2 separate regions of the Homo sapiens genome follow, and region 1 is linked to region 2. The links come from fine-mapping of genetic effects on gene expression. A gene starts in region 2. The other region holds a variant in brackets. All regions are shown on one strand. Distances are from middle to middle.

Region 1 (2,906 bases), 27 kb after region 2:
CCTCTTCGACAGCGGGGAGTCGGACCAGTGCTCCGAGGGCTCGGTGAGGATCCTGGCCCTGGCCCACCTCCCTCAGTCTCGCCGTTATCTTTAACCACTGTAATCTCCTCTTCTCCCCCTGCTTCTCCCTCTCCCTCCTCCCTCTTCCCTCCCACCCCACCCCTCAATCCAAGGATAGCCTAACCCCCACCCAACCCCACCTGGCAGTACTCAAATCACACTCCCCTCCGGCAACAGGAGATGTTGCTCACCCATCTGGGTGCTCACAGACCTGCCGCCGCCAGTGAGAAAAGCAGATGGGAAATGGGACACTTCATGGCCACAGCCCAGAGCACCTGTCCCACCTGTTGCTAACTTCCTATGTGGCCTTGGGGAACTTACAGCCTCAGTTTCCCCATCTGTGCAAGGAATTCCAAGATTCCTTCCAACTCTGCCATCTGCCACCTGCATAGCCAGGGCTCTGCTCACCATGCCACTTTTCCTACTCCCCCCGTCCCCGTGCCATCTGGAGTGGGTCCATACATATGCAGTCCTCCTCTTTTGTTCTGATCCTGACAGCAGGCTGGTTCTGGGCCTTCCTAGGGAAGAGAGGTAAAGGGATCATCTAAGGAATTCATTGCCAGTCACTAAGGGGGCCATCTCCAAGGGATTCTTAGGGACCCTCTCTGAGTGCCCCAAGCTTTGACAGAGAGCTTGAGATCAGCCCCAGCCCCCACTCATTCCTTGTGGTCAGTAACTCATTGCTTCATGCATGACCCCAGAGGCAGTGCATTATATCAGGGGTCAGCAGTACCTTCTCCCCAAAGAGTGAAATGATCATACTGGAATCTCAGGCATTTCAACAAGGGGGAGAGAAAACCTAGGGGACCCACTTTGGCCATTCCCAGAGCTTCTCAGAGGTTCTGTCCCAGGAGCTGTGAGGCCAAGTCAGACATGAGCATTGTGAGCCACAGGACCTGTGGAGGAACCTGCTGCCTCCTGTGCACATGTTACGGATAATTATGGAGACTGGCTTCCCAATTCATTACTGCGAAGCTTTTCTAAGACTAGGAAGAAGCACAGATAACTGTCCTGGTAAAGAGCTGAGTTATGGCCAGACGCGGATTATGGCTCACGCCTGTAATCCCAGCACTTCTGGAGGCTGAGTTGGGCGGATCATGAGGTCAGGAGTTCAAGACCAGCCTGACCAACATGGTGAAACCCAGTCTCTACTAAAAATACAAAAATAAAAAAAATTAGCTGAGTGTGGTGGTCAGCACCTGTAATCCCAGCTACTCAGAAGGCTGAGGCAGAATAATCGTTTGAACCAAGGAGGCAGAGGTTGCAATGAGCCGAGATCATGCCATTGCACTCCAGCCTAGGTGACAGAGCAAGACTCCATCTCAAAAAAAAAAAAAAAAAAAAGAGTTATTCTCCAAAAGCAAATGGGAGGAAGATGGGGAGGCAAGAACTCCTGTAACTGGAGGGACTGAAGCGAGACCTGAGGAAGGACTTTCCAACCAAAGGGAGTGGTGGGG[G/C]CAGGGGGAGGCTTCTCTCTGAGGATGTCGCAAACCAAGGGTACAGGAAGGAAGGGTGGGAACCAATGTTTTGGGTACAGGGGGAAGTGGAAGCCAGACAGTTTCCTGGTGGAGGGTGGCTTTAAGCCCTGGCTGACAGACATCTAGGCTTGATCTGAAATGGGGGACTTTCTGGGAGGGGACAGAAGGCCCAGAATACCTTCCAGTCATGCCAAGTGGGCCACCCAGAGCCCTGTGATTGCTCTACTCATGGGTCTCCCTAACTCCTTCATGGTCCTCGTCTGCCTAAGAAACCCATTCTTCCACTCGGTCCTCTGAACCCCAGGAGGAATGGCCACCCCTCCCCTCTTCTCTTCTTCTTCATTTCTACTTCCCCCTCTTCCACCCTCTTCTCAGTCCCAGTCTCCCTCCACACTTCCATCTGGGCCCCACTCCACAGTCCACAGCCCTCCACTCCCCCACATTGAGCAGACTCTTGAAACTCAAGCAAGAATTCTCCCTCATACCTTCCAGCTACCTTCAATACAAATTGGCATTAGATGAATGAGTGGGTGGGGTGGGAGTGTGGATGGGCAGGTTGGTGGATGGCTAAGTAGGCAGCAGGATAAATGGGTTAAGTAAGGAAGATTGGACAGATGATAGGCAGAGGGGCAGGTAGGTAGATATGTGGGTGGATGCACAAGTGGATTGATGGGTGGGTGCAGAGATGAATGGATGGGTAGATGACTGAGTGGGTTGGTAGAAGAATGGAGAGATAGGTGTGTGGGTGGATGGATTGATAGATGGGAAGATGATAGATGATGGATGGACACATGGATAAAAAATGGATAAATGAGTGAGTTGATAGTGAATGTCTAGTGGGTGAGTGGGTAAATAAATGGATACATGGATAGGTGGGTAGATGATTGAATGGGCAGATGGGTAGATATATAGATGGGAAGGTGAATAGATGAATTGATGGATGGATAATTAAAATCACCAGTTTATCCCGAAGTATCAGAGGATCTAAAATTAGGGAAAATGGGAAAACCAATGAGTACATTTTTAAGGGGATAATGCAAAACAACAAAGAGATTAAGTTGGCTGCACTGCAACTGTGTTTGTCCCCCCAGACACGAGTGTGGGCAGTCAAGGACCCTTGACAGCCCCAGTGAACCCCGTCTTTTCTCCTCCCCCTGCAGGTGGGCTGTAAGGCAGCCATGGTCTTTTTCCAATATTGTGTCATGGCTAACTTCTTCTGGCTGCTGGTGGAGGGCCTCTACCTGTACACCCTGCTTGCCGTCTCCTTCTTCTCTGAGCGGAAGTACTTCTGGGGGTACATACTCATCGGCTGGGGTATGGTACCAGGGAGGGCTTCCAGGCTGGGGACAGAGGGGGCAAGGCCTGGAG
Region 2 (2,906 bases):
CCTCTGTGCCCCCAGTGCACAGCACAGGGCCTGGCACACAGAAAGAGATTAATAAATGTGCATGGAAGAAAGGAGGGAGGGGCTCCATGGTGGCGAGGTTCCCTTTAATGAAGGGAAGGAGGAGAGGGAGGAAAGGGAAAAAGAGCAAGTGCAGGGGATGGAATGCTGGAAGGGAGGAAGAAAGAAGAGAAAGAAGAGAGAGTGGAAAGAAAGTGTAAGTACGCCCTGAAGAAAGGGCCAGGGCACTCATCCCTTCCCGGCTTTCCCCCACTCCCCTCAAGCCCACCCCATGGCAGCATCCCAACGTTCCCTCTCTGTAGGGAGGGAAGCCCTGGTGGGTCCTCAGGGAGCTCCTGCGCGCCTGCTGTTCAGCCAAAGCCTAGCGCGGGACCTCCTTCAGGTAGCCGCACATTCTGCTCAGGGCTCTGGGACCCGCTGCCCTCTCCGCCTCTCCACTGAACTCCGCCTCTCCTTCTGTCACACGGCTCCGCCAGCCACTCTATCCTGCCGCCGCGACCACATCTCCAGCCTCGATTGTGCAGGCTCGAGCCCGTAGAAAGAGGGCTAGCAGCCACCTGCGCTTGGTCCACAAGAAGACGCGCTCCCAGGGCGCAGAGCTGGTGACCCCGCTCCCCATGCCAGGGACGAATAAACGAGAAAAGGGGCTGACCCGGTGTCACCCAGCGGCCGAGCAGCCGCCCCTTGGAAGCTCAGCACCAAAGGCAGGCGGCCAGGGTCCTGGCCCCTCTCTGGACCCCAGTATCCCCAGCTGTAAAATAGGGAATGCAGGAGGAGGACGACGTCTGTGGATCGTTTTAGGTCAGCTGCGGAGTCGGCCTGCGGGCTGGGAGCAGACCTCGCTCCCCACGCGAGGGCGCTGGCACTTCAGCCCAGCCTCCCTGGGGAGGTGCCCTGGACGAGACCCGCGAGGGTGCGGACACCTCATCCTCCCTGGAGCAGGTCTCCCGAGGCTTGAAGGGCCAGGGCACCCAACAGGTGCTGAGCGCGCCCCACCAGGTCACCCGGGAGCAGGGAACACCAAGGAACCCAGAGTCGGGCCTCTTTCGAGCCCTCGCTTCCTCTCGCCTGGCTTCTTCGGCGCGAAGGATGAATTGGGGTTGTTGAAAATTGATCAAACAACCCGATCTCTGTCAGCGCCTGGACACTTGCTGGGCCCCAGCTCGCAGCCTGGGAAGATAAGTGGCACTTCCTGTCTCGTAATCGGATTTGCGCGCACGAACCCTCGGAGACGCACAGGTGGGAAATGGGGAGGCTGGCGGGGAGGCCTCCTGGAGGAGGTGGCTCCGAGGGTAGACATGAGGAGCGCCCTGGGATGGGGCTGAGGGTGGATACAGAGGTGGGAGCTTGCGAAGGTCGTGAGCTAAGCATGGAAGGATGGAATGTGTTCGGGTCTCGAGATTCCCGGGTGATGAGCCCGGAGGGGCGAAGGCCTATAAATGTCTCACGACGGAAGACCAAGGTGTGGGATTGGCAAAGAGAGAGCAGAGCTTCCTCACTGGCAGGGGCTCCCCAGCCCCGCCCCATACCTGCGCGGCGGCCCCGCCTCCACCCATCCATTGGCTAGATCCGCCGCCCGTCAGACGAGCCCCCGGGGCCCGCCCCCAGCCCTGAGCTGCGCCTCTTAGCTCTGGGGCCACAGCGCCAGCGCCACTCTGCCAGGCTCCCGGCCATCGCCCGCCTGGTGCGCCGCCCGCCAGCTCTTTGCCCGCGCGGGGCCGCCCGCCGCGGGCTCAGGGCAGACCATGCGCCCGCCAAGTCCGCTGCCCGCCCGCTGGCTATGCGTGCTGGCAGGCGCCCTCGCCTGGGCCCTTGGGCCGGCGGTGAGTGTTCGCCCGGCCGCCCAGAGTCCCGGCAGCCTGGGGGTTGCGGAGGGCGGGGGAGGTGGGGGATGGCGGGAGCCGGGCCGTCTGTGCGCGTGTCTGTGTAAGAGGAATAGGGGACATCAAGCATCTCGACTCGCCTCCTCCCACCGCTCCAGACCGAACCTAGACGCGAGGGCTGGGATATTGGTCGTGCCCAGTCCCTCCCAGCGCAGCCCGGAGCAGGCACAGCATCAGTGGAGGGGCAGCGGGGAAGAGTGGGCCCCAGACTTGCCTTCCTTGTCGTGGTTGTGGGTGCGCAGCGGGGTGGGGCGGCCAGTGGGTGCAGAGTCAGGTACTGCGGCCGATTGAGATGGAAGGTTTGGTACACCGTAGGTGAGAGGGAGGATGTGAGGGGCCGTTCTTGTGTGCTGTGACCGTCTGGAGGTGCCTGTGGGCTGTCAGCATCAGAACCAGTGCTGGGGGCCCCAGGACTTGAGAAGGGGTTCTTGGGATCAGGTGAGTGACAGGCACATCCCTCCGTGTGCCCTCCCACTGAGCAAAGCAAAAAGGTACCAGACCCCAAGGTGGAAGCTGGTGGGCAGTGAGGGGCTAAGGGTGGTGGTTAACAGGAGGGGCCAGGCCTGTACATGGAGAGAGCTGAGCAGGGAGCCAATGCCAACAAGCAGTGGCCTCCCTCTTCCTCCCACTTCTGCTTCCTCTCAACGTGGGTATGTGTATGCCCTTGATACATGTGTACTCGTGTGCCCCATGTGTGGGTGTGATATGTGTTCCTGTGGATGGCTTACCTGGGCTGGGAGGCAGATGCTGATTGAGGCAGGAGATGCATGGATCATCTCACTCTAGAACAGGGGAGACCTCAGCACTCATTGAGTCTACTGAAGCCCATTTTACAGATGGGCAAAGCGAGGTCCAGAGACACAAGAGCCACATCTGTCTCCCACCAGTTAGACCTAGACAAAGGTTGATTTTCTCCCTACCCCAGACTTTGAGTAATCTAGAGTTGCTGCTTAGGCAGGGCCTTAAATGCCCACTCCAAGTTGGCTGGGGGAGGGTGAGGAATCT

What was found. PIP is the estimated chance that this variant, and not a neighbour inherited with it, causes the effect.
Region 1: its variant is fine-mapped to the expression of VIPR1 in whole blood (TOPMed, PIP above 0.99). The same link has a PIP of 0.9 or more in T cells.

The regions. Positions count from the first base shown.
Region 1 is chr3:42,528,081-42,530,986 of GRCh38, forward strand. VIPR1 (vasoactive intestinal peptide receptor 1) reads left to right here. Exons shown (of 13, transcript NM_004624.4): 6 at 1-43; 7 at 2,699-2,852. It overlaps VIPR1-AS1 (VIPR1 antisense RNA 1), which reads right to left. Exons shown (of 3, transcript NR_046654.1): 3 at 2,816-2,878. Among named protein-coding and RNA genes, the nearest start is that of VIPR1-AS1, 3.1 kb to the right of the region's middle. The variant G/C (reference allele first, on the strand shown) is at 1,518.
Region 2 is chr3:42,500,973-42,503,878 of GRCh38, forward strand. It overlaps VIPR1 (vasoactive intestinal peptide receptor 1), which reads left to right and starts at 1,671. Exons shown (of 13, transcript NM_004624.4): 1 at 1,671-1,841. The coding sequence starts at 1,764. RefSeq lists an enhancer at 169-742 and silencers at 1,270-1,369, 1,430-1,929.